Linked DNA regions of Homo sapiens: regions 1, 2, 4, 5 and 6 are each reported to be linked to region 3. Evidence: microRNA targets listed by miRTarBase, many of them from high-throughput screens and not tested one by one. Region 3 holds a microRNA gene; each other region holds the end of a gene's coding sequence. Distances are from middle to middle.
What was found. Region 3 holds the annotated microRNA hsa-miR-1468-3p (AGCAAAAUAAGCAAAUGGAAAA, at 2,257-2,278, opposite strand). A microRNA usually pairs through its seed, bases 2 to 8, with sites in the 3' UTR of a target mRNA and lowers its output. Matches are read on the target gene's strand: a 7mer-m8 pairs with bases 2 to 8, a 7mer-A1 pairs with bases 2 to 7 and ends in A, and an 8mer does both.

Region 1: the mRNA of MMGT1 is a reported target of hsa-miR-1468-3p. Seed matches in the 3' UTR shown: 7mer-A1 at 1,055-1,061 and 7mer-A1 at 1,107-1,113.
Region 2: miRTarBase lists ZNF107 as a target of hsa-miR-1468-3p. Seed matches in the 3' UTR shown: 8mer at 2,792-2,799 and 7mer-A1 at 2,633-2,639.
Region 4: the mRNA of CGAS is a reported target of hsa-miR-1468-3p. Seed matches in the 3' UTR shown: 8mer at 1,804-1,811.
Region 5: miRTarBase lists CCNL2 as a target of hsa-miR-1468-3p. Seed matches in the 3' UTR shown: 8mer at 3,997-4,004 and 8mer at 3,574-3,581.
Region 6: miRTarBase lists CCNL1 as a target of hsa-miR-1468-3p. Seed matches in the 3' UTR shown: 7mer-A1 at 869-875.

What each region holds. Positions count from the first base shown.
Region 1 is chrX:135,960,668-135,965,742 of GRCh38, reverse strand. It overlaps MMGT1 (membrane magnesium transporter 1), which reads left to right. Exons shown (of 4, transcript NM_173470.3): 4 at 560-5,075. The coding sequence ends at 719. Among named protein-coding and RNA genes, the nearest start is that of MMGT1, 11 kb to the left of the region's middle.
Region 2 is chr7:64,707,954-64,713,028 of GRCh38, reverse strand. It overlaps ZNF107 (zinc finger protein 107), which reads right to left. Exons shown (of 4, transcript NM_001282359.2): 4 at 1,452-5,075. The coding sequence ends at 4,373. Among named protein-coding and RNA genes, the nearest start is that of MIR6839, 31 kb to the right of the region's middle.
Region 3 is chrX:63,783,756-63,788,830 of GRCh38, forward strand. MIR1468 (microRNA 1468) reads right to left here and starts at 2,332; the gene lies at 2,247-2,332. It overlaps ARHGEF9 (Cdc42 guanine nucleotide exchange factor 9), which reads right to left and starts at 1,459. Exons shown (of 10, transcript NM_001353921.2): 1 at 1,361-1,459. The coding sequence starts at 1,390.
Region 4 is chr6:73,420,713-73,425,777 of GRCh38, reverse strand. It overlaps CGAS (cyclic GMP-AMP synthase), which reads left to right. Exons shown (of 5, transcript NM_138441.3): 5 at 200-2,067. The coding sequence ends at 551. Among named protein-coding and RNA genes, the nearest start is that of DDX43, 28 kb to the right of the region's middle. RefSeq lists a silencer at 3,898-4,192.
Region 5 is chr1:1,382,792-1,387,866 of GRCh38, forward strand. It overlaps CCNL2 (cyclin L2), which reads right to left. Exons shown (of 11, transcript NM_030937.6): 10 at 4,986-5,075; 11 at 2,920-4,791. The coding sequence ends at 4,440. Among named protein-coding and RNA genes, the nearest start is that of AURKAIP1, 10 kb to the left of the region's middle. RefSeq lists an enhancer at 1-314.
Region 6 is chr3:157,143,863-157,148,937 of GRCh38, reverse strand. CCNL1 (cyclin L1) reads left to right here. Exons shown (of 11, transcript NM_020307.4): 11 at 349-1,385. The coding sequence ends at 697. Among named protein-coding and RNA genes, the nearest start is that of CCNL1, 14 kb to the left of the region's middle. RefSeq lists a silencer at 172-321.

The DNA.
Region 1 (5,075 bases), 72 Mb from region 3:
CATTCTGGAAGGAATGGCTGGATAAAAAAAAATATTAGAAGCCGGGCATCATGGCTCATACCTGTAATCTCAGCTCTTTGGGAGGCTGAGGTAGGAGAATTGCTTGATCCTAGGAGTCTGAGACCACCTGGGCAACATTGGGAGACCCTGTCTCTACAAAAAATAATAATAAAAGAAAGCCATGTGTGGTGGTGCGCATCTGTAGTGCCAGCACTTGGGGGGCTGAGATGAGAGGGTCGCTTGAGTCCAGGAGTTTGAGGCTGCAGTGAGCTATGATTGTGCTACTGCACTCCAGCCTGGGCAACAGAATGAGACCCTATCTCTATTTTTTTTAAAAAGAAGAAATTTGAGAGCTATATGCTGCTTTTCCAGGTTTCTTATTTTCTTTATATAGGAAAAGAGATACAGTATAATTATTATTTACAGTCTGATTTCATGTATTAATACTTGTTAAAAAATATAACCCATAGTAAATTGATAATTCGTTAGAAGCCTACTTATTTTCAAGTAGGGTTTTATAAAGGTTTATCTAAAATTGATGCTTTTTTCTTCTTTCAAGGACATTTGATACGTTAAGGAATCACCCATCCTTTTATGTATTTAATCATCGTGGTCGAGTACTTTTCCGGCCTTCGGATACAGCAAATTCTTCAAACCAAGATGCATTGTCCTCTAACACATCATTGAAGTTACGAAAACTCGAATCACTGCGTCGTTAAGATTTTTACAAATTATAATAATAGGACAGGACACAGAGCTGGAATATTGGAGTTTGGGGTATAAAACACTCCTCCCTGCCCCCATTAGTATTTATATTGATCTTTCAGACCTACTTTAGTAAAAAAAACCATGGCCCTTGTTTATATACTGTTAATCCAATCATTAATGCAGTGTAAGTTATATGTGAAATGAGTCTTTGGTATTTCATATAGGAATTATTTTTTTTTTCATTTAAAACAAATCCACATCTTTTGTAAAAGCCACTGTTTTGAACACATTTCCTTGAAAAATGTTGGTGGTTTTTGTGATTATTTATTTTTTTAGATTTCTTTTCTTTTGCACTACAATTTTTGGAATCCTTTTGGAAATACTGTGTGACTGCTGTGTTTTGCAGCATGAATTATAGTAAAATGGTCTTCAATTCTTAACAAATGGACTTCCCTGATGAGACCAAAATGGTGATTTAACAGTTTTTCTTGTGTCCCCTAAAAAGTGGCTCTGCTTCAGAAGTACTTGCCAGTTTTTAATTTATTTGTGACTTTTCACCCTACCCTGCTCCCATATACCTTCTACCATCAGCTGTCTTGTTTCATCATTTCTCTGAGATTCTGTGTGCAGTGAGCAATTTTTGTGTCAGAAATTCTTTGTCAGAACAAATATATGTAACAGGCTCAACTTACTGTAAAGCTACTTGTGTTCTCTTCATTTGTCTGTAAAAATTTCCCTAATTGATTATATAGTGTAAGAATAGTTGAAGACTAGTTGAAGACCTTTTGTGATTTCATTATCATGCCTATGCAGAAGAAAAATCATTGAGGAAAATTGTCATTAGCCAGTTTAACTGATTCAAACTCTGTTTATTTCATACTAAACTAGTGAATAAGTGAAATAAAGGAAACTCGTCATTAATCTAAAGACAGAGTTCAAAGGAATTGGGCCAAATATATTCTCAGTATTTGGAACTAATGTTTTTAAGGTTTTTAGGAAAATCAGGTCATTTAAGAAATTGTTTTGTAGTTTCTGGTTTATAGCAGTCTTCAAGTTTTCCATCTTCACTGTATGTTGCTGAAAGTGAGGATGAGGATACAGAGTTGATATTTTTAGAAACAGTAATTTTACTTTTAAGGAAATTGGCTAGCTCTTTGAGCTAGAGAGCTGTAGGAAGCTCAACATTTCTTTGTAGAGAACGTTGCTTTTTTTGGATTGTACAGGTATAAAAACATTGCTTTTGTTGAATTGTATAGGTGTAAAAAGGGAATAACTGTATGCAGGTTTGAAAAGGAAATGTGCTTTAGGCATGAGTCATAAGATGCCATTGTACTTGTAGGCATTTTATTTTCCTTTAGAAATGGACATCAGCTCTTCTCTTCTGACTGGTAACACATAGCCCCAAAGCATGAGATTATTTTTCATTGGGTTTTTATTGTTGTTTAGTTTTGGTTTGTTACGCCAGCCCAGTCTGTCTGCGGAACACTGACTCTGCTCTCTAATGAGAACAAAGTTAGAAATCTGCCGATAACCTAAAATAATTTAGAAATGAATTAAAAATGTGAAATCGGGTTAAAGTGATGATGATAAAATAGCATGCAAGAAACAAGCTCCTTCCATCAGACTTGGCTACTGTTTTCTTCTGGTACGATTTGGTTTGGAAGAGCCTCTTGTTTCCTTCTCTTTGGGGTATGTCTTCGTTTCTTAATATGTTTGTAACATTATTGAGATATAATTCACATACCTTACAATTCACTTATTTTAAGGGTACAATTTAGTGGTTTTTAGTGTATTCACAAAGTTGTGTAACCGTGACCACAGTCAATTTTAGAACATTTCGTTACCCCAAAAAGAAACCCTGTACCCTTGAGCAGTCACCTCTCATTTTCTCCCAGTGCCCACCCCATCCCCGAGCCCCTGGCAACCACTAATCTATTTCTCTCTCTGTAGATTTGCTTATTCTGGTCATTTCATATAAATGGAATTCTACAATATTCGGTCTTTTGGGACTGGCTTCCCAAATATGATTTTCTATATGGAGTGAGAAAATTCTTCTCATCTTGAGAACTCTTATTGCTGTGAAAGGGAGTGGTTGGTAAAATCAATAGATTTCAGGCAAGAGGGCCAGATACCTAACAGGTTTTTCTCCGTGAATCTTATGCTGAGTAGTTTTTCCTCATAACCAAGCATTTATGATATATTACTACTTATAATACTGTGGCTAGTCTCTAGAATGGATGTTGAAATCTTTGCCTCCTCAGTCGGGAAGAGTCCTGCTAAAAATCAGGCTAAAAATCAGGCCAAAAATCAGGCCAAATGACTTGGCAAATAATTGACAAAGTGGTTTTCACGTGTGTCTATCTTTGCTAGCAGCTTGTATACCTCAGGCCAGGTGAGCTCCCCAAATTTCTTTTTTCATTTACTCCAGTGAGTTTCTGCTGTCTTTTTCAAGTATGTACCATAGGACTTAAAGGTGATTTGGATGCGTTGTAACACTGCTAAATATGCTAAGTACAGAATTTTATCTACAGTACTGTGAGACAGTCAATTATTGCCTAGGGTAGTTCAAAAATATGATGTGAGCTAGTTAAGCCTTTGCTTGACTGATTTCAGTGATATTCAGAAGTGTGTACCAATCAAGGCTCTTTAAAATACGGAACGACTCACTTAATAACCAGGGAACCAGCCAAATACTGTGCAGCCGCAGAATATGCATATCAATGAGTTGGAGGTGATTATTCTCTGTAACTCCCTAATGATTGTTTTCTAAGCATTGTGGCTTCTCAGTGGCTTGACAGCATCTTCCTGGTTGTATGTGGCCTGTTTACATGATGTATTGAATAATGTTGTTTGTTGTGAGCATCAATGCCTGTAACACCAAACTAAACACGTGTTTTTGGGATATGTTTCCAATCTTTAAATGACCTTGCCCTGTCCAATAAATAAATGATTGTCTCACCCTGTTTTTGGTAGTGTTTTTTGGGCTTTTTTTTTTTGGACTTTTAATCTCATTTCTTCTGCTTTTCTGTCCCCAGAAAAATGTAAGAGCTAATTTTATGACTGTATTTTTCTACTGTGATGCTGTTTTACTGAATTCAATGGATAATTTAATTGTACATGTAAAATCTTACTGCAGTTTTATGTTTTTAATAGTCAAAATAGAATGTATAATCTTGATGATGTTTATAAATCATCAAATGCCCTTTGGGGTGTAAAAATGGGTTCTTGAGCAGCAGTGTCTAATGATTCCATCACAAATTTGTTATAAAGCCAAACTCCCATTGAAAGTGTCACTTTATACTTAATAGGAAATCGTTATGATTAAAGCATCAAGGAAGCAAATATAAAGTTTAATGAAAATCCAAGGGGAAGTTCTAAATTGCAAAACTTGGCACTTATCTACAGTATTTTGAAAAATAACACCACCGGTATTCAAACCTACCTAGGAATATCTCAAAATAACCTGTTAATTAAGTGTTCTTAGAAAGGGGAGTGGGGGCAAGAAAGATGATGTATGCACATGGCGAAAAGATCAGATGGTACAGAAAGGTATAAAAACTTGGTCCCTTCCCTCCTACCCTAATACTCCTCTCCAAAAGTAACCAGTTTCAAGTGTCTTGTACTCACAGGAAAACAATTTTTTATTTTTTATCAGCAAATTTGTACTTTAAAAATTTCACATTAATAGAATCAGACTATATATACTCTTCTGTACCTTGCTTTTTTTGCTACCTGTGTTTTATGAGATCTTTCTGTATCAGTATATATAAAAATACCTCATTATTTTTAGCGGCTGTGTGGTATTCTAATGTTTGAATGTGTTACAAATGTTCAAACACTGATAGGCTCTTTAGGTTGTTTCCAATATTAAATCACATTGTGGTGAATATACTTGTACATATAATGAGTTTTTATTCTACAGTGTACCTAGCAATACAATTGCTGGATCAGAGGGTATTTTTTATTTTCAGTTCAGTAGTTACTGCCAAATTGTCCTCTAGAAATCTTTGCCCAGTATGCTTCCACATATAATGTATGAGAATGATTATTTACCAAACCCATGCCAATACTGGGTACTAAACTTTTGAAGTCTGATCATGTGAAAGTGAATAAATGGTATCTTGCGTTTTAATGAAGTTCTAATGCATTTTAATGAAGGTCTGGTACATTTTAATGAAGGAGATGGAACACATTTTCATGTTTATTGATTACTGATATTTCCTGTGAAATGTGTAGTCATGTTCTGTTTTCTATTAGGTGGTATGTGTTTTATTGATTTGTATGAGCTTTTTGTAAGCTAAGAAAATTGGTCCATTGTCATGTTTAATAATATTTTCCTAAGTTTTATTTATGTAGTTAAACTTAGT
Region 2 (5,075 bases), not on the chromosome of region 3:
AAATGCCTTTTTTCTTAACTAATCTGAAAGTTATATTGATAAGCAAACTCTCTAGTTATAACCAATTTTTCAGTGCATTAAAAAATACCAACTTTCTCATCAAAGCCTACAAAGTACCATGTGAATTGACATGGCATGAAGACAACAGTGAGAAAACTGTGGCAATAACACAGAAAAAGAAGGACTGTGTTGAATACACTGAAGACACATAAGATAAACAAAACTGAAGATAATTAGGAAATTAAAAAAAAAACAGCAAGATTCAGCTTTGCAGCCTGAAAAAAAATGTTCTCTCCACATAAAAAATCAATGTTAGTTCTTCACTATTAATATTTTCCATCTCTGACTTGAAGTTAGTTACAAACTAACACCAGCAGAAATACATATGGCTCATTATGGAGCATCTGTTACACCATAAGCAATGTCATGTTTGTTTGCTACATCTATATATAAAAACATTTTCATGACTTATGAAGTCTTTCTAGTTCTTACCTGAACTAGCTCAATAAATAAATTTACTTATGTCACCTATAACAAGACAAAAGAATACTAACTAAAGAAAAGTAGGCTTATATAGGATTCTACAATGGAAAGAAGAAATAGAATGTTCTAAATAAAATATAATACACAAATTTTGGAAACACATCTAGAAGTTATTTTGTGTGTACTCCTAAACTTTATAAAAATCATTCTTATAATCCATGACCAGCTCACATGATGAATACCTGATAAATTATAAAAGAAAAACGCATAAGTAACAAGAAAATTAAAGGTGTAGCATGAGTATCACGCAAGTATAAACAAAAACTTTGCATGGGGAGATTCTAAATCGTAAGCCAGATTTTACAGAAATGAATTCAATGCAAAGCAGAGGGTATAGATTTGCTTTCAGCATTTTTGAGGTTTTCAGTTGTCTAGTAAATTAGTCACCTTTTAAAAATTATTAGTTTTGGCCGGGCGCGGTGGCTCACGCCTGTAATCCCAGCACTTTGGGTGGCCGAGGCGGGCGGATCACGAGGTCAGGAGATTAAGACCATCCTGGCTAATGCGGTGAAACCCTGTCTCTACTAAAAATACAAAAAAATTAGCCGGGCGTGGTGCTGGGCGCCTGTAGTCCCAGCAACTCGGGAGGCTGAGGCAGGAGAATGGCGTGAACCCGGGAAGCGGAGCTTGCAGTGAGCCGAGATCGCACCACTGCACTCCAAGCCTGGGCGACAGAGCAAGACTCCGTCTCGAAAAAAAAAAAGATTAGTTTTGTTCCAATATTGCTCGTCTTCTGAAAATAGGTACAAGCTAATACACAAACACACTTACTTGCTCCATAATTTTCTCATACCTAAGGTTCATTTTTAGAGTAATATATGTGTATAGTTAAGTGTATGTAAATCAAAACTAAAATGCTGTATGTTTGCAGGCAGAGAGGTCACATGTTCAAAGAAAAATATATAACATTTTTTAAATGTTTATTCAGAACTCAGAATTTTCTCATGGTTTATTTATACTTGTATATAATTTTTATTATAACCATAAAATGACCCTGTAGTAACGACTGTACATTCTAAAGTATCTAAAAGTGCAGAATTGGTTTGTAATACAAAGGAGAAATGCTGGAGTTGATGGATACATCTTTTGCCCTGATGTGATTAATACATAAAATTATATGCCTGTATCAAAATATGCCATACATGGCATAAAGATATACACATACTATGTATCCACAAAAATTAAGAGAAATAAGTTTAAATTTTAAAAAGAATAAAAATCTAACCTATGGGAACAATATTCTTTATTAGCAGTTTAAAGTCACTAGCAAAAATAATTATTAGAGATGTTAGCCCATTATGTTATCAAGTAGTATACTGTTACCCTCTTTTACCTAAACCCTTGAGTAATGTGGGATAGGTAAAGTCAGTGGCATGAAAACACTTCATTGAATGCACAATAGTTTTAACATGTTAAAAAAAGTTTAATTAAAAAACTAAGTTCACGCATAATCCAAAAATTTTTAAACACATTGCATTTTATTACATAAAAGTACAAATAGTAAAATGATATACTACTAATTCACTTTAATTTTAACTAAGATTAAAAATGGTTTTCTCTTACTATAATGCAGAAGAATATTGCTCTGAAAACCTACTTCATGGATCACTCAATATTATAAGTTAAACACAAACAGCCTCTTCACTCAGGTTTTCATCATGCATCTTACATTTTAATGTCCTTATTCTTTCATAGAAAGTGTCATAAATAATACCGACCTAACAGAAATGATTTCTCATATCTTTGATGCATGAAAAATTAATCACATGCTTTCACATGTGAATACAATAGGAATGAAGAGCATGAATTTGAGTTGAATTACATCATTTGCTTTTCAAAAACTAATTTTTCAAGAAAAAATATAATTTGAATGTAATTATACATCTACAAAAAAATTCTACTTCTTTTAAAGTTATATACACATTATTTACCTACCAACTTTAGTTTTAAATTATTTTCTATACTCAGCATTCTGATTCTATACTCAGCAATGTCTGAAGTGTCAGTACCTTAGATATTTCTACTGTGAATTCTCTGATATTTATATAGACTTAATTTTGGATTAAATTATTTTTATATTTACTTCACTTGCAAAAATATATTTTAGTATGAGGCCTCTGGTATTTTCTAAGCTGTAGTTTTTTAAAAAATGTTTTCACAAATGCATTACATTTACAGTGCTTTTCTCCAATATAAATTTTCTGGTGTTGAACAACATTTGAGCAACTGCTTCATGGTTTTCCTCTAGTGCAAAATGGGTACAAAAGTATCTGTGATACAAGTAAAGGTACTACAACCCTCTTCGTATTTGTATTGTTTGTCCTCACAATGAATACTCTTTTTTTGTTTTGTTTTTGAGACGAAGTTTTTGCTCTTGTTGCTTTGGCTGGAGTGTAGTGGTGTGATTTCAGCTCACTGCAATCTTCGCCTCCCAGGTTTGAGCAATTCTCCTGCTTCAGCCTCCCAATTAGCTGGGATTACAGGGGCCTGCCACCACACGCAGCTAATTTTTGTAAAATTTTTAATAGAGATGGGGTTTTGCTATGTTGGCCAGGCTGGTCTCAGACTCCTGCCCTCAGGTGATCCACCCACCTTGGCCTCCCAAAGTGCTGGCATTACAGATGTGAGCCAGCACAACTGGCTCCTCTTCTTCACTTTAAAGGCTTATATTTTCTGAAAGATCTCTTGACAAAAATTGCATTTATAATGCTTTTATTACGTACTAACTCTCTAATGTTGAGTAAAATCTGAGCAGATAATAATGGCTTTTCCACATTCCTTGTATTTGTACAATCTTTCTGAAGTATAAATGCTTTCCTGTGCAATAAGGGGTGAGCATTTATTAAAAGTGTTGCCACATTTTTTACACTTCCAGGAGTTTTCTTCAGTATGGATTCTTACCTACAATCAAGTGTGACAACCATTTAAAGGCTTTGTGATATTTTTCACATTTCTAGGATTTTTCACCAGTATGATTTATGTTAGAAAGTTCGAGGTGTTGTCAAAATTATTGTCACATCATTCAGGTTTGTAAAGTTTTCAGTATTATCTTATGTTTAGTGAGGTTTGAGGATTGGTTTAAAGTATTGCCACATTATTCACATTTGCAGGGTTTCTCTCAAAGTATAAACTGTCTTATATGTAGCAAGGTGTGAGGACCAGTTAAAGGCATTGCCACGTTTTTTACATTTGTAGGGTTTCTTTCCAGTATAAATACTCTTACATGTAGTAAGAGTTGAGAATCAGTTAAAAGCTTTGCCACAGACTTCACATTTGTAGGGTTTCTTTCCAGTATGAATTTTCTTATCTACAGTTAAGGGTTAAGGAAGGTTAAAAGCTTTGCCACATTCTTCACAATTGTAGGCTTTCTCTCCAGTATGAATTTCTGTATAGTAAGGTATGAGGATTGGTTAAAAGCTTTGCCACATTCTTCACAACTATAGAGTTCCTCTCCAGTATAAATTATCTTATGTGTAGAAAGGTGTGAGGACTGATTAAAGGCATTGCCACATTCTTCTCATTTGTATGGCTTTTCTCCAGTATGAATTACCTTATGTTTAGTAAAAGTTGAGGATCAGTTAAAGGATTTGCCACATTTTTCACATTTGTAGGATTCTCTCCAGTACGAATTTTCTCAACTTTCAGTAAGGTTTGAAGATTAGTTAAAAGCTGTGCCACATTCTTTACATTGTAAGGTTTCTCACCAGTATAAAATACCTCGTGTGTGCAGAAAAAGTTGAAGACTTGTTAAAGGCTTTAACACATTCTTCACATTTGTAGTTTCTCTCCAGTATGAATTTTCCTATGTGTAGTAAGCTTGTAGGATCAATTAAGTTTTGCCATACTCACATTTGTAGGGTTTCTCTCCAGTATGAATTTTCTTATGTGTAGTAAGATTTGAGGATAGGTTGAAAGCTCTGCCATAATCTCCACATTTGTAGGGTTTCTCTCCAGTATGAATTATCTTATGTATATTAAGAGATGAGAACTGGTTAAAGGATTTGCCACATTCTTCACATTTGTAGGGTTTCTCTGAAGTATGAATTTTCTTATGTGTAGTAAGGTTTGAGGATTGGTTAAAAGCTTTGCCACATTCTTCACATTTATAGGGTTTCTCTCCAGTATGAATTTTCTTATGTGCAGTAAGGGTTGAGGATAGGTTAAAAGCTTTGCCACATTCTTTACATTTGTAAGGTTTCTCTCCAGTATGAATTATCTTATGTCTATTAAGGGTTGAGGAGCAGTTAAAGGCTTTGCCACATTCTGCACATTGGTAAGGTTTCTCTCCCGTATGAATTCTCTTATGTATAGTTAGGTTTGAGAATCGGTTATAAGCTTTTCCACATTCTTCACATTTGTGGGGTTTCTCTCCAGTATAAATTATCTTATGGTTAGTAATGTTTGAGAATAGGTTAAAAGCTTTTCCATGTTCTTCAAATTTGTAGAGGTTCTCTCCAGTATGAATTATCTTTTGTGTAGTAAGGTTTGAGGACTGGTTAAAAACTTTGCCATGTTCTTCACATTTGTAGGGT
Region 3 (5,075 bases):
CACTCTCTGGATCCCAGCTTTCCTGGCTGGACAGCAAGGACTCTAAGGTCTTTACCTGCTCTAATCTTTTCTGGTTCTACAAACATTTGATGCAGCTTTAATGGGACCTCAGGGAAGTAGGGAGGTCTGGGAAGAAGGGTCTTTTGAAGCCCCAGCACATAGGCATATGAACCGGATGCCCTTAAGAACCACTGAAACAGAGATCTAACAAAACTCTGAGGAAGGGAAGAGGACAGCCCCTCTGAATATAGTCCTAGCCCACACCAGATTCCCTCTTCCCCTCCACAATGAAAGCAAAAATGGAGTTAAATATCAGTTTTTGCCCAACCACTTCAGGCTACTTTCCTTCATCTGCGGGTTATGGGTGGCAGCGTAGAAGTGTGGGCTATTGCCATCAGTGCCTGCTGACCCAACCTAACTGCCTTCTAAGGCCCTTTTGCTTATGCCTCCCAGCTGAGGACAAAGTCATGGGGGCCTCCCACTCCCCAGAGGCCCTAACCAGGCTTAAGCTGCTCCTGGCTAAGTCAGAGAGGCATCAAAATGCAGCCACCACTTCCTCTCTGCAAAAGGAAGTCATTCCAAGGTCTCCAGGTGGAGAAGGGAACACCATGGCATAAAATGAACTGTTGGAGGATTATACTAAACACACACACAAGCACACACTCCTTGGGAGGGAGAGAAGAGCTCTGTTAACTGACTGTGGCCCAAGCCCATTTCCAGAATGTGGGTTTCTGCAGCTGTCTCTCCTTGACAAAGCCCCAAGTGTGGACAGGGTGACCCCAGCCCGGACAAGGAAGGGCTTTAGGGCTCCCTCAGGCAGCTTCCTGAGAGAGAGAGAGTGGCTCTCTGGCCCTCATGCTCTGGGGCTGACCAGGGAAAGGAGTTGCAGAAAATCTAGTTGGGGGCAGGGGGGAGTCATGCAGCTCTCCCATAAGGCCCCCTCCACAATTCCAGGCTTTGTGACCGTCCCCTCCCCCCACAACCCCGTGCCAGCTTGTCAGCCTCCTGCGAGCTTCACTGCTTCCAGAGAAGCCCTCTGCCATCCCCCTTCCCTCTCTGGCCTCCCAAGTGACCCCTGGGATGTTCCTGGGCACATAATCTGGCCCCCACCCCTATTCCACCTTAATCTCAGAGGGAGATAGAAAAGTGGAGGGGGATGGTAGGGGGGTTTCCTGGGCAGGCAGGCTAGCAGGGACTCCTAAAATGGCCACAGCAAGCTCACTGGTGTCTCAAGGACGGCGGCTAGGGCGGTGGGCAGAGGCCAGGGTGCTCACTGCCTTGTGGCTCGTTGGAGGAACTGGAGGTGGGGCTGGGGGACTGAGAGGCTCAAGCAAGGGAAGCCAAGGTTACATGCACTCACCATTCCCGATCCGCCCCTTATCCACTGCATGGTGCTTGCGAAGTCCGGCTTCTCTGAGGCCCCGTAGCTGGCGCGAGTTGTCGCGGGCTGACTAGAAGGGCTGGGCTGAAGCAAGCGAGAGCCCCAGCGCCCCCTCCGCCGCCCCTCCTCCACAGCCCTACAACCCAATCCCCTCCGCCCCGGACCTCGCCTTCAGTCAGTTTGTTCCATGCCAACCGGCAGGCTCTGTCTCTCCGCCCTGCTGCTCCTAGAGGTCTTGGCAGGGAGAGGTGCGAGTGTGGGGGGGTCCTAATGGGCTGCTTTTGTCCCCCACCAAGGCTTGAGAACTGTGGGGGTGGGGTGCAGGGAGAGGATGGGGGCGAATAGCCTCCGCCCGCCCAGGAGAAGGCAGCTGCTACCTCTGCCTGCCTCCCGCTGCGCTGGAGTTAGATGCTGTTTATTGTGGGGCTTCCCAATTGTGTCGAGTCAGCGGAAAGTCCTTTCCAAAGTTACCAGAGGTGTTGTGCCAATCTCCAGAATAATAAGATCCTGCCCCAGTGGAGCCAAGCCAGCACTCTCATGCCTCCCTCCCCCACCCTCCCTCTGCATACTCCCCTAGGGTCTTCTCTCTTTGTGTACTATCTGAGAGCTTTCATCTGCATTACTTTCACTTCTCAGAACAACCCTGTAGAGGCAGCCATTAGTATCTCCAAGTTATAGATAAATAAATGGAGGTTTGGAAGAGGGAAGGGGCATAAGGTCACATTAAAGAAAAAAAAAAGATAAATCCTCGACTTTACCCTCTGCGGCTTTCCAAGCCTCTTTCGGCTATCTCTCCCTTTCTATCTCACACACACCACTCCAGGCTTCTCCTTCATGCCCTTAGGAACATGAAAGGTAGCTTGTTGATGGACGAATTTTCCATTTGCTTATTTTGCTGAGAATGAGTTGAATGCACATCAGCGAAACAGGCAAACGGAGAAACCACCCACCTCTTTATGATTCCCCCAACTCTGGGGAACACAACACAGGCTGGTACCTTTGCTTAGGCTAAAAATTGACTTTGTCAGTCACACTAACATCTGTTATTATCCCTTATAATCCTCACAGTAACTCTATGAGATGGACACAACAAGGATTCTTAATTGCCCACCATTACAGACTTGAACACTGAAGCCCAGAGATTGAAAGACTTCTGCTTAAAGTAGCACAGCCAAACAAGACAAGAATCCAAGGCTCCTGACTAGAAGAGCAGGTCAGGCAAAGACAGAATTGCAAAAACAGAGGTTGCAACCAAAGTAAAAGGAGTTACAGTATGATATTAGAAAGAAGTTCCTGGAGATAATTGACATGAAGACATCACTGGCCTGTTACACGTACTTTATTTGTCCTCTTCTTTTTAGCACAACTTCTGCACTTCATCCAACCTGTTGTTTTGTCCATGCAGAGCTGGGCAAAGATAGAAGCAGTACCTTAATGAGCACCCCATCATGGGAGGTGTACAAGCAGAAGCTGAATGACCCTTTGGCAAGGGATTCCTGAATCAAATGGGAGGTTGCCCTGGATGACCTTTCAACTTCCCTCCCAAGTCTGGTAACCCAGGCATCAGTGATTCCACAATGTTCTCTCACTTTCCCATCTCTGGGCCTTCTTTCATGCTCAGTATCTTGGATGCACCTCCCCTGCCAACCAGCCCATTCAAACTGTCATGACTGTTCAAGATCTGGCACCAGGCACACCACCTTTAGAAAGCTTTCCAGGAATACCTCCAGGCCCTGATTTTGTCATCTTTCATTTGATTCCTATAGCACTACGATTTCACTGTCTCGATTAAAAATGATCTTTTTATTTCCTGGATGTTACGGGCTGAATTGTTTTCCCCCAAAATTTATATGTTGAAGTCCTTCCAGTACCTCAGAATCTGATGACTCGGAGAAGACAGTCATCTAAACAGCAAGCCAAGGAGAGAGGCCTCAGAAGACCCAACCCCACTGATACCTTGTTCTCAGACTTCTGGCCTCCAGGATTATAAGAAACTCAATTTCTGTTGTTTAAGCCACAGAGTCTGTGGTATTTTGTTATGGCACAGCCCTAGCGAACTAACACAATGGTCATATGAACATTTTACTGTCCCCTTTCACTTAAATGGCATTATGTGTTTTTGAAGCAGTGGCAATGAATTACTAATTTCTGCATCTTCTACAACAGTGACTGGCACATAGTAAATACCCAATAAAAACTTGGAATTTTTTGATGGATGCATTCATTCAACATTATCATTTAGCCCCTGTGTGCCAGGCATTGTGACAGATGCTCAGGATACAAGACAAAGTTCCTCATGGACCTTACAATCTACTTACAGAAGAGAGATAGACAATAAATAAGTAAACAAACAAAAATATTTAGAGATTGTAATATGTGCTCTGAAGGATATAAACCAATTTATGTGATGTGAGTAGCCCTGGAATTGTGGAAAGTATCTGTGCCGGTCATGGTCCAATCAGGAAAATAAAAACCACCCTAGGTCTTTTAAACTGCGAGCATTTAATGCATGACACTTACAGAGCTAACAAGCCAGACAGAGGATGAGGATGCAGCAACCTAGCATTTAACAAACACAGAAAGCTGCTACCACTCGTAGGGATGGACGGATAACAGATGAAGCCATGCAGAAGCTAAAATCATGGGTTGGACAGCCTATTGGAAGCAGGTGCCATGAATGGAAGAGTTGTTCAAGAGGAGCTGGAGCCATGGAGGAATACAGCTACCACCAGAAAACACCTCTCTGATACAGGTGGTGGGAGAAATACCCTGGGTTCTCCCTTCCTCCTAGCCACCAATCTCCTGTACATGTCTCCCATTGGACAAAAGAAGTGAGAAAGCAAGGAAATCTAACAAATGTAATTTTCAGGAGAAGAGTGGAGAATGGATCTGGATGCAAACAGGCCAGTGTTAATATAAAGCCTAGGGACTCCTGCAAAAAACAGGTGCCTAGAGACTCCTGCAAAAAACGTGTTGATCCCAGAGGTGTAAATAGATGCTGTTGAATCCAGTCATTATGTCTTGAGCACCTATTTGCCTAGAACCATATGAGTAGTTAGAGGAGACATAATGTAGTTGGTAGGGCATAATCTCTGAAGTCAGAACAACTTGGATTGTATTCAGTTATTGGCTTTGCCACTTACTTGGGCAGATTATTCAATGTTCTATGCCCTGACAGTTTCTTTATCTGTGAATAGGGCTGACAAGATAGTTACAAAGATTTGATAAATTTGTCCAAGGAAAGTACTTAGCACAGGGCCTGGAAGCCAGTAAGAATTCAGGACAGGACAATAGAAATCTGGAAAAGGGGTTTCCATAATCTCTGTGTTCACTCTCTTGAAGTCCTGTGATCTCCCAGAAGCCTCTTTGGTACCTAGCCAGGCACCAGCTCTCCACTCTAGTAGAGGGCCATGAGCAAAATGAAGAGAAAGACAGTCATGTCCCAGCTTATCTGTGACTCAGGTTCTCCAGTCATACAATGAACACACTAATTGTGTACCTAAGAGTGTTAAAGAATCACTGATCCATAGATATCAGAGTTGGCCTTAATAATTGTAAAGATTATTTCCTCCAACAGTCTCATTTTACTGATGAGAAGATATAGCCCCAGGGAATGGAAGGAGCTCCCAAAGTCACAAAGTAAGTTAGTGGCTGAGCTGGGATAAAAACTCAAACCCTTGATTCTCCAGTGAGT
Region 4 (5,065 bases), not on the chromosome of region 3:
GACTCAAACTCTTGATCTTAGGTGATCCCCCTGCCTCAGCCTCCCAAAGTGCTGGGATTACAGGCGTTGTGTCACCACGCCCGGCCTATATTTATGTTATTATATATCTTTATTGTTTATATTTTTGCTATGAGATGCCTAAAATCCTTTGTTGAATGTAAATAAGTAAAAATAAGTGTTTTCCTTTTTTATTCAACAGGAAAGATTGTTTAAAACTAATGAAATACCTTTTAGAACAGCTGAAAGAAAGGTTTAAAGACAAAAAACATCTGGATAAATTCTCTTCTTATCATGTGAAAACTGCCTTCTTTCACGTATGTACCCAGAACCCTCAAGACAGTCAGTGGGACCGCAAAGACCTGGGCCTCTGCTTTGATAACTGCGTGACATACTTTCTTCAGTGCCTCAGGACAGAAAAACTTGAGAATTATTTTATTCCTGAATTCAATCTATTCTCTAGCAACTTAATTGACAAAAGAAGTAAGGAATTTCTGACAAAGCAAATTGAATATGAAAGAAACAATGAGTTTCCAGTTTTTGATGAATTTTGAGATTGTATTTTTAGAAAGATCTAAGAACTAGAGTCACCCTAAATCCTGGAGAATACAAGAAAAATTTGAAAAGGGGCCAGACGCTGTGGCTCACACCTGTAATCCCAGCTCTTTGGAGGCCGAGGCAGGCGGATCACTTGAGGTCAGGAGTTTGAGACCAGCCTGACCAACATGGTGAAACTCCATCTCTACTAAAAATATAAAAATTAGCCGGGCATGGTGATGCATGCCTGTAATCCCAGCTACTCGGGAGGCTTAGACATGAGAATCACTTGAACCCAGGAGGTGGAGGTTGCAGTGAGTCAAGATGGCACCACTGCACTCCATCCTGGGTGACAGAGCAAGACTTCCTCTCAAAAAATAAATAAATAAATAAGAAAAATAAATTAGGAAATTATTAAAATAATTTTTTAGAAAAGCAACAAAATAACAAAAATTAGTGACTGTAATAATTGGAATGTTTGAAATTTGTCACAGCAATAATTGACTAAAATGAATGTAAATAATTATTCAGTTTTCAGTTTGTTGTAATAAACTCTAATCAGTATAAAGGATTGACTATCCTAGGAAAAAGATTAGTCAAGGAATAAGAAGCAAAAGTAGTATTTGAAATCTAAAAACATTACCATGTTTGCTTTATCATGCAGGCAAATAAATAAATAAATGACATTTTTAGGTTGGAATAAAAAAAGATAAAGTACATATTGCCTTAATTAAATTCATCAAGTTCTTACTGAAAAACAGCTCTCCGCCGTGCCTGGCCAGGAAATACATAATTTTTTTTTTTTTTTTTTAGATGGAGTCTCGCTCTGTCGCCCAGGCTGGAGTCCAGTGGCATGATCTTGGCTCACTGCAAGCTCTGCTTCCTGGGTTCATGCCATTCTCCTGCCTCAGCCTTCCGAGTAGCTGGGACTACAGGTGCCCGCCACCACATCCGGCTAATTTTTTGTATTTTTAGTAAAGATGGGGTTTCACCATGTTAGCCAGGATGGTCTCGATCTCCTTACCTTGTGATCCGCCCGCCTTGGCCTCCCAAAGTGCTGGGATTACAGGTGTGAGCCACCACGCCTGGCTGAAATACATAATCTTAAAAGAAAACATAAGATACTTTATTTTAATATACGTGACTAAATGTAAAACCTAACTTATTTTCTGTTATCTATTTATTTTTACTTTCAGTAACACTTTTTTTATTTTAGGTAGCATTCAGCCTAGAGGCAACTGCTGTTTGTTAAATATTTCCTGTTCATATATTTTGCACATTTTCTTATGGGTTAGTTTTCTTCTCATTGTTTTGGGAAGTTCTTAATATATTTGGGGTATTTATCTTTCATTCGTTGTCTGTGTAACAAATAACTTCTGCCATATGGGTTGTCTGCACATTTTTTGGTGTCTTTTAGTAAACAAGGTTTTTTTGTTTTGTATTGTTTTGTTTATTGTAAAGATTTTTAAATTTTAATGGAGTTGATTTCTTTTCTCATTCAAGCTTTTGAGAATAAATTGGAGTTGAATTTTTTATGGTTTTTGCTTTATACATCTTGTTTAACAGCCTACTATGTTTGAACATACTAAGAGAAACATTAGACATTTGAAGAGTTTTGGGGACAATTAATGATAAATAAACCACTATGCAAATAAAATAATCTAAGCAATTTTTTTTTTTTTTGGGACAGTCTCACTCTGTCGCCCAGGCTGGAGTGCAGTGGCACGATCTTGGCTCACTGCACCCTCCTCCTCCCGGTTCAAGCAATTCTCCTGCCTCAGCCTCCCAAGTAGCTGGGACTACAGTTGCACGCCACCATGCCTGGCTAATTATTTTTGTATTTTTAGTAGAGACAGAGTTTCACCATGTTGGTCAAGCTGGTCTCAAACTCCTGACCTCAGGTGATACACCCATCTCAGCCTCCCAAAGTGCTAAGATTACAGATGTGAGCACTGTGCCCAGCCAATCTAAGCAATTTTTAACTCCATAAGAAAAATGAATGCATGAAAGAAAAGTCTGATATAAGAATATTGCTCAGCTGTTTAAGTATTGACAAAGTCATAGTAATGTAACCATTGACTATTAATCTTATTGAAGTTATGGACTGTTGTCGACTTTAAAAAAATTAAAAACCAGGGGCGGTGGCTCACCCCTGTAATTCCAGCACTTTGGGAGGCCAAGGCGGGCAGATCATGAGGTCAGGAGTTCAAGACCAGCCTGGCCAACATGGTGAAACCTCATCTCTACTAAAAATACAAAAATTAGATGAGTATGGTGGTACGTGCCTGTAATCCCAGCTACTTGGGAGGCTGAGGCAGGAGAATCGCTTGAACCCAGGAGGCAGAGGTTGCAGTGAGCCAAGACAGTGCCGCTGCACTCCAGCCTGGTGACAGAGCGAGACTCCATCTCAAAAAAAAAAAAAAAATTAAAAAAAAACTTTTTTAATGTGAAAAGAAAGAAAGAAATTATGATTACCCACTCTGTGGTTAGGATAGGACAATAGGCTTAGTTCCTGTATGGTGACAGTGGTAGGGAGATTACATTAGTTTCCTGTGTAACAATTAACCACAACCTTAGAGGCTTAAAACAACACATATTTATTATCTCACATTTTCAGTGGGCCAAAATTCTGGGTGTGGCTCTGCTCAGAGTCTCTCAAGGCTATAATTAAGACGTCAGCCAGCGCTGTAGCCTCATCTGAGGCTTGACTGGAGAAGGAACCATTTTTGTTGGCAGAATTTAGTTCCTTTACATTTGTAGGACTGAGGGCTTCAGTTTCTTGCTGTCAGCCAGAGGTTGCCCTCAGTTCCTAGAAGCTGTCTTCAGTTCCTTACCATGTGAGCCTCCCAACATAGGCAGCCCACAACAGTAGCTCGATTCTTCAAAGCCAGCAAGGGAGGTACTCCAGCAAGAGGAGTGCTACAAACTTGTTTAACACAATTACATACACATAATTATGTACAGTCCGTTGCCTGTACTGTATTCTATTGATTGGAAGCAAGTCAAAGGTCCCTCTCATACCCAAGAGGAGAGGAATCACTCAAGGGTGTTCTTGTTGTCTCAGATGCCAGCGATACAGTTAGGGGGAAAACAGTTCCCATAAGACCACCCTCATTTCTGTCAACAATTGCAATTTCAAGGGATTCCTAAAACCACCCTGAGGTTTGATGAAAGACTCACAGAACTCACTAAAACCACTATGCTCATGGTTGCAGTTTATTATATAGTAAGCATGCAAGTTTAAATCAGCCAAAGGAAGAAGTGCGTAAGGCAGAGTTTAAGAGAGTAGCAAACACAGCACTTTCTGTTGTCTTTTGGTGGAGTCATGGACATGTTATTCTCTTGGCATCAATGTGTGCCAATACACGCAGAATATTGCCAGCCAGGGAAGCTCACCTGAGCCATGTCCAGAGTTCTTACTGCAGCTCATGGTTGGCTGGACATATGTCTAACCTCAGTCTCCAGCTCCTCTGGAAGGCAAACAGTATAAGCTGATACCATGACCCAAAGACCCCACCATAAATCACATTGTTATACTTTCTGGCACATTCCAAGAATTCAGCCATTACCTTTCAGAAGCCAAGGGCAAAGGTGAGACTTTTCTTTGGGTTAGGTTAAATTCCTTACTACATAGATATGAACCTCAGGAGGTGGGGGGCCACAGGACAACCCTGAGGGTCCGACTGTCACAGGTATGCAAAAACTGAATTAATCTTCCTTATAGTGGGAAGTCAGTAAATGTCAAATTTTTAAAACCAAGAAATTGCAGTATAAGCAAGTTATTAATGGCTAAAAGATGAAAAGGTTACATCTTGGGAGTGGAAAATGAAGGGTGGAAGGGTTCGGGACTACTTTTTTTTTTAAATAAAATGATTTTATTTAGTTAGTTTGTAAATGTGAATATAGTTGGCAAAAACCAAACCAAAACAGCATAAAACCAAAAAATGACAGTTATATGATTGATCATGCCCAAGTACAACAGCATTTATTAGTAGAATATAAAAAATAAATTTTATGGCTGGGTGCCATGGCTCATGCCTGTAATCCCAGCACTTTGGGAGGACGAGGCGGGCGGATCACCTGAGGTCAGGAGTTCAAGACCAGCCTGATCAACATGGAGAAACCCCGTCTCTACTAAAAATACAAAATTGGCCGGGTGTGGTGGCGCATGCCTGTAATCCCAGCTACTCAGGAAGGCTGAGGCAGAAGAATTGCTTGAACCTGGGAGGCAGAGGTTGCAGTGAGCCGAGATTGTGCCATTGCAGTCCAGCCTGGGCAACAAGAGCGAAATTCCATCTCTAAATAAATTAATTAAATTAAAAATAATAAAAAATTTTATTATTGTTGTTATTTATTTATTTATTTTTTTGAGACGGAGTCTTGCTCTGTCACCCAGGCTGGAGTGCAGTGGCGCGATCTTGGCTCACTGCAACCTCCGCCTCCCGAGTTCAAGCGATTCTCCTGCCTTAGCCTCCCAAGTAGCTGGGATTACAGGCACCCACCACCACGCCCACCTAATTTTTTGTATTTT
Region 5 (5,075 bases), not on the chromosome of region 3:
ACAATCTGGTAACAATCCAGAGGTCACCACACTTTTCCAACAATCCAGTAACAATCCAGACGTTACCACCCCTTTCAAAACAATCCAGTAACAATCCAGACGTTACCACCTCTTTCGCAGAAAGTCCTGTAACTCACCCCTTAATTTAATGTAAGTAAATGTGCATATAAATACAGTTGTCAACAGCCCTCAAGTGCAGCTCTGGGCCCCCTGTCTAGGCATTATCCTTGCCCCATGAGAACCAGCTCCAGTTCAATAAAAGGAATGCTGAGGGCCAGGTGCAGTTGCTCACGCCTGTAATCCCAGCACAGGCCAAAGTGGGCGGATCACCTGAGGTCAGGAATTCAAGATCAGCCTGGCCAACATGGTGAAACCCCATCTCTACTAAAAATACCAAAATTAGCCAGGCATGGTGGCAGACGCCTGTAATCCCAGCTACTCGGGAGGCTGAGGCAGGAGAATCTCTTGAACCCAGGAGGAGGAAGTTGCAATCAGCTGAGATTGCAGCACTGCACTCCAGCCCAGGCGACAGAGCAAGACTGTTGGATTGCTGTGGGCCAGGTGCAGTAGTGGACACCCACAATGTCCACCAGCAAGAGGGAGGGTGAGGAGGGAGGACTGTTTGAGCCTGGGAGACAGAGGTTGCAGTGAACTGTGATTGTGCCACTGCACTCCAGCCTGTGTAACAAAGTGAGACTCCATCTCCGATTAAAAAAAAGAAAAAAAAAAAGATTGCTGTCTACTACCACCTGCATTCTTCCCTGGGTGAAGACAAGAACCCTCATGGGCTAAGCCCTAATTTGGGGGCTTGCTGGCCACGGATCATCTGGTGGTCATGAAAGGACAAAGATAGCAAGGAGGCCGGGCGCAGTGGCTGACGCCTGTAATCCCAGCACTTTGGGAGGCTGAGGCGGGAGGATCGCGAGGTCAGGAGATGGAGACCATCCTGGCTAACACAGCGAAACCCTGTCTCTACTGAAAATACAAAAAATTAGCTGGGTGTGGTAGCAGGTGCCTGTAGTCCCAGCTACTCGGGAGTGCCATTGCACTCCAGCCTGGATGATAAGAGTGAGACTGTCTCAGAAATAAAGTAAAATGGCTGACAAAAATAAATTGGGGTTAGAGGAGAATCAACCAAGAGAAGGGGAGAAGGATGTGGTTCTGTCCAGGGTGGCCAAGCAATGGGGTATCCAAATCCACTGCTTGGCTGCCGTGAGGGAACAGGCCCTTGGACTTGGGACCTGGCCGGAGCACAGATCTCACAGGAGGTGGCGGTGCTGTGGCCGTCGCCCACTGCTCGGCTCCACCACAGGCCAGAAAAGAGGATGGTTCTGAAAAGAGCCTCTGGTTCGTGTGGCAGCGTTGATCGCCCACCGCGGCACGTCTTGCTGTCTCATGTTGCCTCCACTGCCAGTCGCCTCCATTCTCCCATCTCCCTGCCTCTTGCTCACTCCCTTGTTTTTTTTTTTTTTTTTTTTTGAGACGGAGTCTCGCTCCGTTGCCCAGGCTGGAGTGCAGTGGCGCAATCTCGTCTCACTGCAAGCTCTGCCTTCTGGGTTCAAGCGATTCTCCTGCCTCAGCCTCCTGAGTTGCTGAGACTACAGGCATGTGCCACCACACCCGGCTAATTTTTGTATTTTAAGTAGAGACGGGGTTTCACCGCATTGGCCAGGATGGTCTCGATCTCCTGACCTCATGATCTACCCACCTTGGCCTCCCACAGTGTTGGGATTACAGGCGTCAGTGTGCCACTGCACCCAGCCCTTTTTTTTTTTTTTTTGGCATCTTTAGTAGAGATGGGGTTTCACTATTTTGCCCAGACTGGTCTCAAACTCCTGAGCTCAAGCAATCCACCCACCTCAGCCTCCCACAGTGCTGGGATTACAGGTGTGAGCCACCGTGCCCAGCCCATTTTATTTTCTGTCCTGAAATGTATGCTTCATTCATGGTTTTTGCTCTTACTCCCCAGTAACTGCATTAGGGCAACTGTTTAAGGCAGGACACTTGGCCGTGAGAGGTCCTGTTGTGTTGACCCTGAGATGCCAGAGTCACGTTCTGTGGCCCCAGCTTGGCCTTTGGGGTACACTGTTGGCTGCCTTCCACCTGCTCTGGGGTTTCTGGCATTTGTTGTGTGCACCCTCATTGGCCAACACTTGGGAACCCCAGGGTTTTGGCATTTGGTGCTATTGGTCACCCTCTGGATGGCCCACGGTTTTGGCACTGACATTTCTTCTAAGATTGTAGGTTGGAGGCCCACCCTAGCGGACTCTTGGTCTTGCCTTTTCTTGCTTACTGCCCTAAAACCTAAAATTATAGCTTTTGGTAACAGCTTTTTCTTTTTTTGAGATGGAGTCTTGCTCTGTCGCCAGACTGGAGTGCAATGGCGCCAACTCAACTCATTGCAATCTCTGCCTCCCGGGTTCAAGTGATTCTCCTGCCTCAGCCTCCTGAGTAGCTGGGATTACAGGGACGCAGCACCACACCCAGCTAATTTTTGTATTTTTAGTAGAGACAGTGTTTCACCATGTTGGCCAGGATGGTTTCAATCTCCTGACTTCGTGATCCGCCTGCCTCAGCCTCCCACAGTGCTGGGATTACAGGCGTAAGCCACAGCACCCGGTCTCCCAACAGCACTGGGATTACAGGCATGAGCCACCGCGCCCGGCCTCCCACAGCGCTGGGATTACAGGCGTGAGCCACCTCGCCCGGCCTCCCACAGCGCTGGGATTACAGGCGTGAGCCACCGCGCCCGGCCTCCCACGGCGCTGGGATTACAGGCCTGAGCCACCGCGCCCGGCCTCCCACGGCGCTGGGATTACAGGCCTGAGCCACCGCGCCCGGCCTCCCACCACGCGGCCAAAACTCATTTTCTACTGCAACACCATTTGGGCGCAATGCAAATTAGGAGAACATAAAATCTGGCCTTAAATGGTTCTTTATGTCATAATAATATTTTACAATTATTTAGTAAAAAAAGAAAGCAAATGGAGAGCGGTCTCTTGGGTACAGGTGTGTATGGCCCTTTACTGGTTCTCTTACTTCCAGGCACAGGAAGCTAGGGGGCCCCTCATAGCTGCTCTCCCTGGAAGGACACCCTCCCTGGAGTCTCCTCAGTTCCCCAATTCTGAGGGGGGGTCCCACCAGCTATCTAATGCAGGATTCCATCAAAAAAGTCATCAGGCGTAACTCCCCGTTATCCCACTAGCCCCGGCCTATATGTCCCACTGCCCTAGTAAGTCCAAACGGTACCACCAGGAGTGGGGCCCCCTAGTCCCCAAAACCAAAACTGTGTCCACGGTAAGAGGCAGCTGATGACAGTGGGGGGCACTCAGAGTGCAGGTGCCACCCCCGTGGGGTGACCCTCCAAGTGTCCTGCTCCCAGCTGCCTCTCTCGCCCACAGATGTCATGGGTTACAAACCAGTCCCCCTCAGGAACGAGAGCACCTTGGAATCATTCTGTGTTTCCAAAACTTCCCTCCTATGGCCCTGCAGGAAGGAGCCTGTCATCCTGATGGGCAGAGGACTCAGGCCCCTCACAAGCCTTCGGCAGAAGGGCAGGCACACAGGATTGGATGCAAAATCCAAAACTTCAGTACAGCAGGGAGCAAGGAGCCCGGAAGTGGGCGCACTGGCTGTGCACACGCCTGGACACTTTCACAAGCACACAGAACGACCACCTACCACGTCCATAACGCTCCGGATGTCCTGAGTGGAGAGAGTTGTGTTTATTCACCATGTCATACGCGCATATAGGGAACCTCTATTTAGGAGCTGGTGGCCTGCACTCAGCACCGCACAGATAAAAATATACGACTTTCAACACAGATCCAAATACCCTCACATTTTAAAAGTCAGGATTCCCTACACAAGTTTTAAGCTGACGGGATTCAAGTTCTGAGTTTTCATACATAGCTTTAACTTGTATTAAACACATGTTTATTTACAACGTGGAGAGAGAATAAGGGGCAGTTAAGGCCACTTTCTCCTGTGAAACACTGCAAAATATGTACATAAGTACAACCTAATATAGGCAAAGGTTCTAAAAATCATCTTTCTTGGCTTCACGTAATTGAGTATCAGTCGGGGAGTGGAGAGCGGCTGCCGATAGCACCAGGCCATGCCAGGCCACGCCAACAAGGGCGTGTGCATTCACTTTTTCATTGAGCTGCCCTCAGAGCTGCTGCCGAGCTGAGCCCTGCACGGGCCCAGGTGTGCGCCGCACCCCAGACCGGTCTGAAGCACGTGTCACCGGTCCCTCAGTTCCATTTCCAAATCCACCAAGGTCCAGTCGACAGACATTTCCAAAAAGAATCCTGTTCTAGGACCACTTGCGCTGAGAGCACACCCGGGGGTCAAAGGGCAGCCACCGGGGGTCAAAGGGCAGCCATCAGGTACTCCCCAGGGAAGGGCTTGCGGCCACCAGTCACTGCAACCCCGCCTCACCTCCGATGCCTGCTGTGCCCAGGGTGGTCCCGCTCATAGCGACGGCCTGTGCGTTCATACGACCTCGAGCGCTCTCGTCGCTGATCTCTGTAGTAATGACTTTTCTTCTTGTATTTTCCCGGATTATCCGCCCGCTCCCGTGACCTGCTTCGAGAACGGGAAGAACTCCGGCTCCGAGACTTGTGTGGCTTCTGGGGGTACTTGCAGTCCTTGGACTTCCGGGAGCCCCGAATCTCAGAGCCTTTGTAGGGAGCGCTGCGGGGGGCCTGTCTCGGTGGGGAGTCACTCCTGCTCCGGGAGCGGCTCTGCGACTTGGACCCACCAGATGTGGAGCCGCTGTCACTTTTCCTGGGAGGAAGAACAGCACCACCACACGTGTGACCATCTGGCCCGGCCAGGCCCCACACACCCACAGGAGCTCAGACAAGACACACAAGCTCCAGGTTTAGAGAAACAAGAAACCACCTCAGGGTGAGAATGATTACCCCGAGGGACAGCCCCACCCCGGTATCGGCCTCCTGGGTGCGCCCTGAGGCACACACCTCCTCTTAGGAGACGCTGATCGGGATGGGGACCTCGAGTAGCTCTGCTCACGGCTCCGGCTCCGACTCCGACTCTCTCGCCCCTTTGGC
Region 6 (5,075 bases), not on the chromosome of region 3:
GTCAATGAATCTTCTTTAGTTAGGCCTGTAATTAGATTGTTAGCTCTTCGTGGCTCTTCAATGTCTTTTGAACATGTGGGAGATACTTAATAAAAAGCATAGCTCTAGGACACTATAAAAATTGCTAATTACTCCCCTTGGAATAAAGACATAAGAACATTTGCTTAAGATTTAATATGTTATATATAGGCTTGGGCATACAGCAGTGAGGGGTGGGGAGATTTTGAAAAGTTCTGGTTTGTCATTTATGTAGCTGGTAGTTTTGTTTTGAACCTGTTATGAGCAACCACCGGAATAATCTGTTCCCCATAGAAACTGAACCTAAACTTCAAATTTTTATTATCTAAGCTATAATAATAGGCGGAGTCGATCTGGAACATACAGCTCGAGATCAAGAAGCAGGTCCCGCAGTCACAGTGAAAGCCCTCGAAGACATCATAATCATGGTTCTCCTCACCTTAAGGCCAAGCATACCAGAGATGATTTAAAAAGTTCAAACAGACATGGTCATAAAAGGAAAAAATCTCGTTCTCGATCTCAGAGCAAGTCTCGGGATCACTCAGATGCAGCCAAGAAACACAGGCATGAAAGGGGACATCATAGGGACAGGCGTGAACGATCTCGCTCCTTTGAGAGGTCCCATAAAAGCAAGCACCATGGTGGCAGTCGCTCAGGACATGGCAGGCACAGGCGCTGACTTTCTCTTCCTTTGAGCCTGCATCAGTTCTTGGTTTTGCCTATCTACAGTGTGATGTATGGACTCAATCAAAAACATTAAACGCAAACTGATTAGGATTTGATTTCTTGAAACCCTCTAGGTCTCTAGAACACTGAGGACAGTTTCTTTTGAAAAGAACTATGTTAATTTTTTTGCACATTAAAATGCCCTAGCAGTATCTAATTAAAAACCATGGTCAGGTTCAATTGTACTTTATTATAGTTGTGTATTGTTTATTGCTATAAGAACTGGAGCGTGAATTCTGTAAAAATGTATCTTATTTTTATACAGATAAAATTGCAGACACTGTTCTATTTAAGTGGTTATTTGTTTAAATGATGGTGAATACTTTCTTAACACTGGTTTGTCTGCATGTGTAAAGATTTTTACAAGGAAATAAAATACAAATCTTGTTTTTTCTAAACTGCTTCAAATACCTTATTTAAATAAATTATTAAAAAGGAAAATTTTAATAGCAAAATGGCTGTACTGGTTTTCTGACAAACTTATTCTTTCCTCCATTAGATGGTAGTTTGAGATTATTAAAATGCAATTCTTAACTGCATTGTGAGCTATTGTAAGTCTTCACTGTATATATGGAAAAAGTAAATGGGAGTCGCCCAACAATGTGACATTAAATGTTATATTTTAGCACTAAACCAAAAAACCTGATTTGCTTTTGAATGGTGTCATAAGGTAATTTTGAGTCAGATTTAAGTACTATTTCTGAAATGAGGTACCCTATTGAATGAACCAAAACTTAGTAACTATTGAGCTTTAACAGTTCTGTATAATTTAGGCATTTAATGTTACGATTTTTACGTAGGCTAGGAGAAAATGTGAGGCCCCTGAACTTGAGTGGTTGATAGAATACAAGCTGATCACAAAGAAGTGAAGTTTTGATGAAAAAGCCGGAATTTCTATCCAGATGAATGTTTTCAAGTTACTCACATTTACTATTTTTTTCAACATTTTGGAAATCAGTTTACAGAGTCAAAATGTTGCATCGCTTTATAATTACACTAAGGTCTCCATTACATTTATTTTACCTACTTTAATTGTCCACTAGACTTGGCTCCAAGTGATTTGTTGCTGTTTCAAGAAATAAAATACACCCACAAAGAGGAAGATGTATTACTGCTAAGGATATTTTTAAAAATAAAGTTACAGCTTCTGAAGAGGAGATTCCAAAGACTTAAAATGTGTTCACCAATGGCAGGTGGTGGAGGCTGGAAAAAATAGCTTCACAAGGCAACTACTTTGAAGGAGATTAAGATTCATTAGGATATAAAAGTGTTGGGTGTGCTACTTAAATCAGTTATAGTTCTAACTATAAAGACTAACCAGAAACTAACAAGACCCAGCAAAAGTTAGCCACTTCATGCTTGAAAGAGGGTAGATAGTTCATTAAGACTTCTTTCTGCCTGATTTGTAATACACATTGCTGAATTATAAATAGATATTTCTGAAAAGCTAACTGCTTCTAAATGCTGAACAGTTTGCTTCCCCTACAAGATAGACATTGAAGAAAGGCAAAGGCAAATGTCAGCAAAGGCCCTGTTAGCAAATTAATGTTGATTTTTTTTTTTAACTTTTTTTTTTTTTTTTTTAGAGACGAGGTCTTGCTACGTTGCCCAGGTCGGTCACGAACTCCTGGCCTCAAGTGATCCTCCCACCTCAGCCTCCCAAGTATTAAATTCTTAATAGTGTTGAAATTACTTATGTCCCTAATCTTTGCTTGGAAATAGGAGTGCTGTGGGTGAGGGTTGTTTGTGAAGATGGGGAGTTGTGGAGGATACACCTGCATGTGGAATGAGGTTTGTATGTTAAAGGTGTTTTTAGAGGTGGCTTTGTGGGCTAGGCAAAGATCTTTTTCAGGGTCTTGATTTTTATCTTATTGTCTGTTACTGAATCCGTTTTCTAAGTTGTCAGGATGTTAACCTCATGCCACTCTATGGCTATTTAAACACTTTCTCTAGAAGTAATACTCATTTTCAAACTTATTTTGAGAAACAAAGTTGTGCAATACCAATAATACCTGTTTATTAACTCCAAAATAGCAAAACTTAATCTGTACCCCACCAGTTCACCACTCCACCTCCCACCCTTGCTATTGGGAAGAAAATCCCATACAAGTAAAGTTTGTTCCCAAGTGTCTCAGTCCACAAGGTTGAGGATTTTTAAAACATAACCATATAGCTTTATTGTAAGAGTTAAAAGTAATGCCATACTACCCCTGTCAGTATCCAGAGAGCCCTCATCTCTAATTTGTTTTAACTGATTTGTTCAAAGTCCAAATATGTTGCATCGGCTTTAACCACAGGCCTCTCCATATTTCTTACTTGAAGAAATTGGGTCATGTCCTGAAGAATTTTTTGTCTCCTGGGTTTGTTCATTGTAACTCTGTGCTGTCACTGAACACATTTTTCTGTCCACTGTGTGGTAAAGTGGTAGATCTTGAGGCTTGATCAGATTTAGGTTTAATTTTTTTACTTGTCTGGAATTAGAAGCCTGGACACCCAGACTGTTATTTTAGAACTGAAAACTAGGTTGCTGCCTCATCCACCAGGTATTTTACTGAGTTCTCAGTTCTTATCCATTGGTGCTTGTACCTCACTGGCTTTTGTATCTGTTTTTCCCTCTGTTCTCTGTCTCATGTTTTGGTTGGCCCATTACAGCAATGAAAATGTTATTTGTCCTAATGATCCTGATACTTTTTTTCTTTAAATGACCCACAAATTAAATCCCGTTTTGGTTTTTTTTTTTTTTTTTTTTTTTTTTTGAGATGAAGTCTCGCTCTGTCTCCCAGGCTGGAGTGCAGTGGCACGATCTCGGGTTACTGCAAGCTCCCACTCCCAGGTTCATGCCATTCTCCTGCCTCAGCCTCCTGAGTAGCTGGGAATACAGGCGCCTGCCACCACGCCCTGGCTAATTTTTTTGTGTTTTTAGTAGAGACGGGGTTTCACCTATGTTAGCCAGGATGGCCTCGATCTCCTTACCTTGTGATCCACCTGCCTTGCCTCCCAAAGGGCTGGGATTACAGGCATGAGCCACCGCGCCCGGCAAAATCCTGATTTTTAGTACAAGTCCTTTCATGTTATAGAACATTACATTTGTCCTTTGCAGCTGGTATCTTTAGTTTAAAGACCAGTGAAATTCTTAACCATGTTCCCATTTTAAAACAAAGCGAACATAAAAATGACTAATTCTTAGAACTGAAGTTCTAGGTTTTGCTTTAATAGCTTTTAAGTATTGCCACTTATAACCCCATTATTAACACCACAGTCTGCATCAAAAGCTTACTTAAAACATTTAGTTTTCATGAGAGTTTCCAAAAATAATATCATAACAATCATTTGTTCTAAGAGCCATTTCTTAACTCATCATGAACTGTAATAGATTATGAAGATAAGTTTCAAAATTTACATACCAGATTTTTTAAAATGAAGTTAAAAGCATGGACATATTGAGGGTCTTATGCATGGGCATACTGAAGGGTTTGGAGAGACAGAATGTGCATGAGGTTTGAGAAGGGGAGCATCACTTCCCTATGTGGAAATAGGAACGGAGCAGCGTTCATTGTGTGGGCCTTGAGCCCCTCATCCCTTTCACTCTAAGGCTGGAAGCCACAGCCTGATGTTCTAACCATTTGAACACTTAACATTTGTTCAAAGCCTGGCTTTGTAATCATTTGAACATTCCATTACATGGAAGGAACATGGACTTCATGTCAGCTCTGCATTTTAAATCATTCCTCCACAGTGACTTGACAAGTTATTTTACCTCTTGTCTACTGGCCCTTACAACATTTTGTGTAGTATATGTGTTGGGCAAATAGGATTTATTTTTACCATTGCAATCCAGACTTCATATTGGAACGCACTCAAATATTCAGAAGTTTGAATTCTACCACTCTCAAACACAGTTCAAAAGATAGCTGTTTGAGAATGCTTCTTAACTAATACTAGTACAATATCTTCAATAATGTATGTACCTTATAGAAAATCTTGAACAGTACAAGATTTTCATAATTAAGGCATGCAAAACTGCTTGGGCTCTTTGATTCCAGGTGTCCTCTTCTCCCTTCTGCTTTTGCCATCTATGTTCAATATAATTCTAACCCAGTCTAAGTATGGAGAAAATTCCTACCCTGCCTGCTTTTATAGCTCATCAAATTTCCCTGTATCAGCTATCACTTTTCTGGTAGGTGTAGTCTGATTTCTGTCTGTCATGCCTTTGCCACAATCCTTTCTTTGAAGAGTAGGTAAAATGATCTATTTAAAGTGTTAATCACATTGCTCTAATATATAAAGCCTCCAGTGGTTTCCCATATCACTCTGTAAAATGCCCCTTGCCA